Linked DNA regions of Homo sapiens: region 2 is linked to region 1. A link means that fine-mapping ties the variant in region 1 to the expression of a gene that starts in the linked region. Tissue or cell type: whole blood. Region 1 holds a variant in brackets; the other region holds the start of a gene. All regions are shown on one strand. Distances are from middle to middle.

Region 1 (5,146 bases):
CACTCCAGCCTGGGCGACAGGGTGAGACTCTGTCTCAAAAAAAAAAAAAAAGAAATTAAAACGTGTTCACTTCTAGTCCATTTATGTACATGTTCCACTTCATTCTGGGCTTGGATTATGTAGGTAATTTAGGTCTCTGGGAAGATCTTTTCTGCTTCGTTTTTTTGCTACTCTTCCTCCTGCCAGTTACTGCATTAAAGATATATAGGATATTACTAATGTTTAAATTTCAGTGTTCTTAGAACAACAATGTTGAGAGGTTTCTGGGTGAAGTTTTTAAAAATATATATATATGTATGTTAAGGCTGGGCATGGTGGCTCACACCTGTAATTCTAGTATTTTGGGAGTGGTAGGATTGCTTGAGGCTAGGAGTTTAAGACCACCCTGGGCAACATATCAAGACCCCCATCTCTAAAAGTAAATAAATAAAAATATGTTAAGCCTTAAACAACTGGAAGTTACACCACACTTATCTAATACAGGTAGTAGGAAATGTGATTTGAGATAGGTTTCATTTCTTTAAGTTATGATTTCTATAAATAGACAACTAAGACGTTTTTAGATAAGGGTTAGTTTATAGCTACCATTTGTTTAATACTTACCAGTGCATAGTGTTAACCTACCTGTTTTCACATTTAATCTTCATAATCTGCTAAGGGGGGTAGCGTCCCCATTTTACAGATAAGGAAAATAAACTTAAGTTAATTTTCCAGGGTCAAACAGAGAGAGCGAAGAGCCTAGAGGTATCTGAGTGCTAGGTTGTGCTGCATTCAATACCCAAAGATAAAATTTTCTGCCTCCGCCTATCCCCCTACCTGTTCCAGAGGCTGTTCAGAAGGAATTCAGATTTCCAAACTCAATTCAGTGTCCATTTGACAAGAAGAAAGAAAAAATGGGGCTGGGTGCAGTGGCTCGCGTCTGTAATCCCAGCACTTTGGGAGGCTGAGGTGGGCAGATCACTGGAGGTCAGGAGTTCGAGACCAGCCTGGGCAATGTGGTGAAATCCCGTCTCTACTCAAAATACAAAACTTAGCCAAGCTTAGTGGCGCTCGCCTGTAGTCTCAGCTACTCAGAAGGCTGAGGCAGGAGAATCACTTGAATCCAGGAGGCAGAGGTTGCAGTGAGCTGAGATTGTTCCACTGCATTTCAGCCTGGGTGACAGAGTGAGACTCGATCTCAAAAAAAAAAAAAAAAAATGGAAATGCTTTTCATACAGTACTCTATGTAAACATCATTTCTTTTTTTCTTTGAGACAGAGTCTTGCTGTGTCGCCCAGGCTGGAGTACAATGGCATCATCTCACCTCACCTCAACCTCCGCCTCCTGGGTTCGAGTGATTCTCCTGCCTCAGTCTCTCGCGTAGCTGAGATTACAGGCGCCCGTCATCACGCCCAGCTAATTTTTGTATTTTTAGTAGAGACGGAGTTTCACAATGTTGATCAGGCTGGTCACAAACTCCTGAACTCAGGTGATCCACCAGTCTCAGCCTCCCAAAGTGCTGGCATTACAGGTGTGAGCCACTGCGCCCAGCCCAAAATATTCCTAGTAAAACAGTATTATTTTGCATTAGGTGTAGATTAGAGTGTACGTTCCCTTAGGGGATTTATCAGAATATTTTGGGAAGGGGCTGTAGTTTGATAAAGCAATTTGTATGTGTAATTTGTCAGGATGTGTAATTTATTTTGGAATATAATAACATGAGAATTTTTTTTTTTTTTTTTTTTTTTTTTTTTTGAGACAGAGTCTCGCTCTGTTGCCCAGGCTGGAGTGCAGTGGCGTGATCTCTGCTCACTGCAAGCTCCGCCTCCTGGGTTCACGCCATTCTCCTGCCTCAGCCTCCCAACTAGGTGGGACCACAGGCGCCCGCCACCACACCTGGCTAATTTTTTGTATTTTTAGTAGAGACGGGGTTTCACCGTGTTAGCCAGGATGGTTTCGATATCCTGACCTGGTGATCTGCCCATCTCGGCCTCCCAAAGTGCTGGGATTACAGGCGTGAGCCACCAAGCCCGGCCCGAGATTTTTTTTTTTTTAATGTGTGAATGAAGTATATAAGTTTATTTAAGAACTTGAATGGTGCCAGGGCTGGTGGCTCACACCTGTAATCCCAGCACTTTGGGAGCCAAGGGAGGAAGGAATGCTTGAGCCCAAAGAATTTGAGGCTGCAGTGAGCTGTGATTGCGCCACTACACTCCAGCCTAGGCAACAACAGAGCGAGAGCCTGTCTCAAAAAAAAGAACTTGAATGGACATTAGTATTGCTCTTAGTTTTTTTTTTTTGTTGCTTTTTTGGTTTTTTTTGTTGTTGTTGTTTATTGTCTTTTTTTTTTTTTTTGAGGCGGAGTCTCGCTCTGTCGCCAGGCTGGAGTGCAGTGGCACAATCTTGGCTCACTGCAACCTCCGCCTCCTGGGTTCAAGCAATTCCCCTGCTTCATCCTCCCGAGTTGCTGGGACTACAGGCACGCGCCACCACACCCAGCTAATTTTTATACTTTTAGTAGAGATGGGGTTTCACCATGTTGGCCAGGATGGCCTTGATCTCTTGACCTCTTGATCCACCCGCCTCAGCCTCCCAAAGTGCTGGGATTACAGGCGTGAGCCACTGCGCCCGGCCTAGTCTTAGTTTTTTAGTTTTTGTTTTTGTTTTTGTTTTTGTTTGTTTGTTTGTTTTTTGAGTTGGAGTCTTGCTCTGTCGCCCAGGCTGGAGTGCAGTGGTGTGATCTCAGCTCACTGCAACCTCCGCCGTCCAGGTTCACGCCATTCTCCTGCCTCAGCCTCCCGAGTAGCTGGGACTACAGCCGCCCGCCACCACACCTGGCTAATTTTTTGTATTTTTAGTAGAGACGGGGTTTCACCGTGTTAGCCAG[G/A]ATGGTCTTGATCTCCTGACCTCGTGATCCGCCTGCCTCGGCCTCCCAAAGTGCTGGGATTACAGGCGTGAGCCACTGCGCCTGGCCTATTCTTAGTTTTTAGAAGTGGGGTGTCGCTGTGTTGCCCAGGCTGGAATGCAATGGCTATCTTATCAGGTTCTGTCATATTGTTAGCACCCTACGACCTTGAACTCCTGGGCTCGGGTAATCTTCCTGCCTCAGCCTCTGAGTAGCTGGCACTACAGGTGTGTGCCCCACTATGCCCACCTGGGACATTTTTACTTAGGAATTAATACTCTGGTTATGTGTAAAAATTCAAACAATATGGAAGTATATAAAGTAGTTTTTACGTCCCATGATAATCACTGTTAATTTAAAATCAGAGGGAACCACTGTTAATAATTTCAAGCGAGTATTATACATTAGGGAGAAAAGTATAAACATGCCTATGTAATACTTTTTGTTCTACTTGATTTTATTTGCTTAATTTAAAATATATCTTTCTGTATCAATGTATACGATGTATTTCATTTGACCTGTTCAATATTTTTGCTGCCACAACATATATAGTCAACTCAAAATTTAATGCATTGAACAAAATATATCAAGTACTATTTGTGTACATTGAAGTTATGGTTCTTTCACATTATAGCTATCCAGTCAGTTCGCTGCTATTCCCATGGGTCACAGGAGACAGATGAGGAGTTTGATGCTCGCTGGGTAACATACTTCAACAAGCCAGATATAGATGCCTGGGAATTGCGTAAAGGTAATTGGAACATAAACATATTTGTCTATTTTGGTGTGTAAATATGAACTGCTTCTGCTCCTTTATTGAGAGCAACTGTTTCGAAAACATGCGTTGTTTAAACTGGTTACTTCATGCAACTTGCAGTTAGGAAAGTTTATGGCTACCTATAAAGCAGGATTTTAAGGCAGGCACTATTGACATTTTGGGCCAGATAATTCTTTGTTGTAGGGGACTGTCCTTTACACTGTAGGGTGTTTAGCATCACCTTTGGCCTCTACCTGCTAGGAGCCAGTATGCACACATTCGTATCATGACAACCAAAAATGTTTCTAGGCATTACCCAGTGTCTCCTGAGGGATGAAGTCACCCTTAATTGAAAACCACTGCTATAGCAATAAGGCTAGATGAGCAAAAGGTAACAGTTTTGTACATTTCAAACAATTTACATAGCACGGGCGCGGTGGCTCACGCCTGTAATCCCAGCACTTTAGGAGGCCAGGGTGGGCGGATCACGAGGTCAGGAGATCAAGACCATTCTGGCTAACATGGTGAAACCCCGTCTCTACTAAAAATACAAAAAAATTAGCCGGACGTGGTGGCGGGCGCCTGTAGTCACAGCTACTCGGGAGGCTGAGGCAGGAGAATGGCGTGAACCCGGGAGGCAGAGCTTGCAGTGAGCCGAGATCGCGCCACTGCACTCCAGCCTGGGCAACAGAGTGAGACTCTGTCTCAGAAAAAAAAAAAAGAATTTACACAAAGCAGTCATTTGGTTCCCTTCCCCTTTGGGTGATGGTTTGGGTTTTTTGTTATTTTTGCATTGTTTTGCCATGAATAAGTATCTAAGTAAGTTAGAACTTGTCTTTCCTAAATTTGCAGATGCACACTTAACATGAAAAAATAGAATTAGGTGTAGGGTAATTTATCTCATACCAAAAATTCAATCTCAATGACTATCGTATTCACTGGTATCCTTTGTTTAAATATTTTAAAGTAATAAAAGCAAGAAACCTAAGTGCTTTAAACTTCTCTGCAGAAATGTAATGATTCCCTTTTGCTACAACCAATAGAATTCTTACTGAACAATCTGGAGTAGAAGTAATAAAAAGAACAATTATGTATTCCCATTAAGAGAATCTTAAATTTTATTATGTGTCATTTTGTGCAGATCTGAAAGTAATCATGCCCAATCATTTTCTGGTTGAATGTTTATGAGTCTGTGTACTAATGTTTCTCTATAATATCTCCTTAATGTCCTCATTTAGGCTTCATTAACTCTACGCATTTCTCTGGCTGTTTTTAGGCTGTTTTCCAGTTGAATCTCTTTTATTTTGGTTTTTTTGTTTGTTTGTTTTGTTTTGTTTGAGATGGAGTTTCTCTCTTATTGCCCAGGCTAGAGTGCAATGGCGCGATCTCAGCTCACTGCAACCTCCACCACCTGGGTTCAAGTGATTCTCCTGCCTCAGCCTCGAGAGTAGCTGGAATTACAGGCATGTGCCACCACGCCCGGCCAATTTTGTATCTTTAATAGA
Region 2 (5,146 bases), 57 kb after region 1:
ACAGTAAAATAGTTACTAAATGTGTATGATGCATGTGGGCTGGGCACAGTGGCTCACGCCTGTAATCCCAGCACTTTGGGAGGCCGAGGCGAGCAGATCATTTGAAATCAGGAGTTCAAGACCAGCCTGGCCAAGATGGTGAAACCCAGTCTCTATTAAAATTACAAAAAAAAAAAAAAAAAAATTAACTGGGTGTGGTGGTGAGTGCCTGTAATCCCAGCTACTTGGGAGGCTAAAGCAGCAGAATCTCTTGGACCTGGAAGGCGGAGATTGCACTGAGCTGAGATCATGCCACTGTACTCCACCCTGGGTGACAGAGTGAGACTTTGTCTGGAAAAAAAAAAAACCCCAAACCCACAAAAAATAAATTAATAAATGTGTATCATGTGCTTTATACTATGTTAGTGACAGAAACACAACAGTGAGCAAAACAGACCTCAGCCCTACCCTCATGGAGCTTTCAGTCTAGCGGAGGATACAGGCATAAAGAACCACCTATACTAGTATTAATTACAATCTGCAATGGGTATTGTGAAGGAAAAGTACAGGGCAATAGGAGAGCTTATGTTGGGTATGAGGTGATGATGTAACCAAGAGAGTGAAGGGAAGCTACTCCTGAAGAAAGGCATCTGAACTTGCATTTAAAGGGTAAGGAGAGGTTAACCAGAGGATGATAGTGGGGCATGGGTTAAGTGCATACCAGGTAGAAGGAACACATGTGTAAAGGCCCTGAGACAGGAGGGCACAAGGAAGGTTTGAGCAACTGAAAAGAACTTGCATGGCTGGAACAGTGGGTGGGGGTTGGGGGCTAGAAGGGGTCAGAAGGGGAGAAACGTAGGGGCAGATCCTTTAGGACCTTGAAGACAAACTAAGAATTTGGGCCTTTATGATTTTTTTTTTTTTTTTTTGAGACAGAGTTTCACTCTTTTTGCCCAGGCTGGAGTGCAATGTTGCAATCTTAGCTCACTGCAACCTCCGCCTCCCAGGTTCAAACGATTCTCCTGCCTCAGCCTCCCAAGTAGCTGGGATTACAGGTGTGCACCACCACACCCAGCTAATTTTGTATTTTTAGTAGAGATGAGGTTTCACCATATTGGCCAGGCTGGTCTCGAACTCTTGACCTCAGGTGATCTGCCTGCCTTGGCTTCCCAAAGTGCTGCGACTACAGGCATGAGCCACCTTGCCTGGCCTGATTTTTTTTTTTTTTTTTTTAACTGAGACAGGGTCTCACTCTGTCACTCAGCTGGAGTGTAGTGGTGCAAAGATGGCTCACTGCAGCTTTGACCTCCTGAGCTCAAACAGTCCTCCTGCCTCAGCCTCCCAAGTAGCTGGGAGTACAGGCACAGGCCACCATGCCTAGCTAATTACGTGTGTGTGTGAGATATGTATATGTATATATATATATATATATATATATATATATATTTTTTTTTTTTTTTTTTTTTTTTTGTAGAGCCAGGGTCCTGGTATGTTGCCTAGGCTGGTCTCGAACTCCTGGCTTCAAGTGATCCTCCTACCTCTGCCTCCCAAAGTACTGGGATTACAGGCATAAGCCACGCACCCAGCCCTTTATGGAAATTAATTGAAAAATTTTAACAAAGTTCTGTGATAATTTTGCCCCCTTTAAACATATCTTTGATTACAACATGAAGAACAATAGACCAATTAACAGCACTGTATTAGTTCAGGGTAAAAATGACAGTGGCTGGGATTCGGTGACAGCAGAGATGAATAATACCAGACAGATCCAAATAAATAAGGTGGATTTGGCCAGACAGTGGTTCATGAGTATAATCCTAGCATTTTAGGAAGCCAAGGCGGGAGGATCACTTCAGCCCAGGTGTTTGAGACGAGCCTGGGCAATATAGTGAGATCCCCATCTCTACAAAAAATCCATAAATTAGCTGGGTATGGTGGTGACCAGCTGTAGTCCCAGCTACTCAGGAGGCTGAGGTGGGAGGATTGCTTGAGCCCAGGAGCTCGAGGCTGCAGTGAGCCATGATTGCACCACTGCACTCCAGCCTGGGCGACAGTGAGACCCTGTGGGGGGCGGGGGCGGGGGAAAGCGGAGCTGTGGAGAGTGAAGCAGCCACCTCCCCCATGATTGAGGCTGTGTTGCTGAATTCCGTGAGTCACTTCATAAATGTTTGATGTCCAGGTTCAAGTCCCAACTCAGGTCCCAAAGCTGATGGGCCCAGGAACCCTCGTCCCTAAAACGATGAAACGACATCAGAGGGCGAGCAGCCCTAGAAGAAGCAGGCTCAGCTCGGGTGGAGGACTGCTGGATGGTCCTGGCACTTCTCTTTCCCCGAGCACGTTCTGCAGAAGAAGCGCTTTCCTAGTTCTCCCAAGGCCTCTGGCCTCACCTGTCACCCCTGTCCTTTGCCCAGGGATCAGTTTGGACTTCTTCCCAAACTTGGTCTACAGAGAAGTGAAGGGGCTGTTTCCTGTCCCACTTTTGAGAGTTTGCTTTAGAAACATAAAATTGGAAGGTGTCAGATTGATAGGCAGTTGGGAAGGACTCCGGCCACGCCTCTGGCTCCGTAGACGCTCCGCGCAGCCAAGACCCCTGAATCCCCAGCAGAGCGAAGATGTGGACGGAAGCCGAATGCCCACCCACCGCACTATTGTGGGCTGGGCGGGGGGGGGGGGGGGGGGGGCGGAGCGACCCCGGTGCCGTCATAGGGCCACGCCCTCGGGGGAGGGCATCGCGCCTGCGCCAGAACCGCTGCCTCGCTCCCGGAAGTGGAGGGTCTACACGAAGCGCCGCTGGGTCTGGGTGCCCGGAGGCAGCAGCGTTCGCGGAGTTCGCCCGCTGGCCCCCGATCACCATGTCGGCTTTCGACACCAACCCCTTCGCGGACCCAGTGGATGTAAACCCCTTCCAGGTAGAGCCCCTCTCCCGCCATCCAGCTCTCAGATTTCCCTAGGGCCCACGGCCGCCGCCCGGGCCTCTCGCTAGAGCCGGGAGACGTGGCGTAGGAGGGACGGGTCATCTGCCCAATGGGAGAGCGGGCTTTGAGGTCTGGCCTATCGTAACGCGTGAGGGGCGCGACTAGCAGCAGGTGGAACTGCAGAGGAGGCGGGGCGCTGAAGTGTTGGAGACAGTGGGGTCTTCTAGCACCCGGAGGCTGGGCTGTGCTAGGGAAGGGGACTGGAGCAGGTACGGTCGGACCCTTCCGGAAGTCTCCTAGCGTCAGGGAGAAGCGAAATGTGGCTATCGCATTCCCTCATTCTTGGATAGACACCTGTCTTGAGTCACTTTAGAAGAGGGGGTGACAGCAACATATGAGGAGGTGGTGAAGCCTCTGGTGGAGGGGAAAAATGTGGGAAAAGCCCAGGACACCTGCCACCGCTCCACCACCAGCCAAACTAGTGTATAAAGTACAGGAGAGCCCCTGAGATTTGTCAGGGAAAGAAAGATGGGAGAGGGCGGGAAGGTAGCCCAAGTTGAAAAATGGCCTTGATAAGAATTCCACATTTTGGCCATGGGTCTAGTTTGGAGTGGGTTTTGACCAGATAGGAGAGCCCGGGTTAGGGAGAGAGGAGAGGTGCGGGGGACTGTGAAAAATTCTGGACCCACAGGGAACGTTTGTCTGATGGAACTGTGTGTGGTGGCAACATAGTTGAGATGCACTGACGTGTGAGCTGGCCTGACTTTTTTTTTTTTTTTTGAGACGGAGTCTCGCTTTGTCGCCCAGGCTGGAGTGCATTGGCACGATTTCCGCTCACTGCAACCTCTGCCTCCCGAGTTCAAGCAATTCTCCTGCTTCAGCCTCCTGAGTAGCTGGGACTACAGGCGTATGCCACCACACCCAGCTAATTTTCATACTTTTAGTAGAGACGGGGTTTCACCGTGTTGGCCAGGCTGGTCTCAAACTCCTGACCTCAGGTGATCCATCCGCCTCGGCCTTCCAAAGTGCTGGGATTACAGGTGTGAGCCACCACGCCTGGCCTGACCTTTTGAACAGCAATCAAGGAAGAAACAATCTTCCTGCTTTCTTTCTTTTCCTTTTTTTTTGTTTTGTTTTGTTTTGTTTTTTGAGACAATTCTTGCTCTGTCGCCCAGGCTGGAGTGCAGTAGCGCGATCTCGGCTCACTGCAGCCTCAGCCTCCTGGGTTCAAGTGATTCTCGTGCTTCAGCCTCCCGAGAAACTGGGATTACAGGTGTGCACCACCACACCCGGCTAATTTTTGTATTTTTAGTAGAGACGGGGTTTCACCTTATTGGCCAGACTGGTCTCAAACTCCTGGCCTGAAGTGATCCACCCACCTTAGCCTCCCAAAGTGCTGGGATTACAGGGGTGAGCCACCACACCTGGCCTCTTTTTTTTGAGACAGAGTTTTGCTCTTGTTGCCCAGGCTGGAGTGCAGTGGCGCGATCTCGGCTCACTGCAACCTCAGCCTCCTGGGTTCAAGCAATTCTCCTTCCTCAGCCTCCTGAGTAGCTAGGATTACAGGCATGCACCACCACGACCGGCTAATTTTGTATTTTTAGTAGAGACGGGGTTTCTCCACGTTGGTCAGGCTGGTCTCGAACTCCCGACCTCAGGTGATCCACCTGCCTCGGCCTCCCAAAGTGCTGGGATTACAGGCATGAACCACTGCGCCCAGCCCTCTTTCTTCCTTTTTTAAGGCAGGGTCTCACTCTGTCGCCCAGGCTGTAGCACAGTGGAGGTCATGGCAGCCTTGACCTCCAGGATTCAAATGATTATTTGAATCCCACCTCAGTCTCCTGAGTAGCTGGGACTACAAGAATGTGCCACTGGGCCTGACTCCTTTTAAAAAAAATTTTTGTAGAGAAGGGGTCTCGCTGTGATGCCCAAGCTGGTCTCGAAATCCTGGTCTCAAGCAATCCTCTGGCCCCAGCCTCTCAAAGTGCTATGATTACAGGCATGAGCCACAGGACAGTCTTCCTACTTAAAGCCCACACCTTTCTGCCTTTCAGCTGAGAGCACAGGGATGATCTTTTTCCACCATGAGGGGCTGAACTGTTACCTCCAGAGCTCCTATGCCTCTTGTTTCACGTCTGCTCAAAACCCGTTCTAGGGAAGCTTGTTTGTGCTGACTGGTGAATTATGAGCCCTGATATTCTGCTCTGTCAGGATGTCACCAGGCACATTAACTCACCCTGCTTGTCCTTTAT

Evidence for each region. PIP is the estimated chance that this variant, and not a neighbour inherited with it, causes the effect.
Region 2: it holds the start of SCAMP2, and the variant in region 1 is fine-mapped to the expression of SCAMP2 in whole blood (INTERVAL, PIP above 0.99). The same link has a PIP of 0.9 or more in sun-exposed skin and unexposed skin.

Annotation. Positions count from the first base shown.
Region 1 is chr15:74,927,605-74,932,750 of GRCh38, reverse strand. COX5A (cytochrome c oxidase subunit 5A) reads left to right here. Exons shown (of 5, transcript NM_004255.4): 2 at 3,519-3,635. Among named protein-coding and RNA genes, the nearest start is that of COX5A, 7.9 kb to the left of the region's middle. The variant G/A (reference allele first, on the strand shown) is at 2,867.
Region 2 is chr15:74,870,941-74,876,086 of GRCh38, reverse strand. SCAMP2 (secretory carrier membrane protein 2) reads left to right here and starts at 2,722. Exons shown (of 9, transcript NM_005697.5): 1 at 2,722-2,888. The coding sequence starts at 2,832. RefSeq lists an enhancer at 4,539-5,146.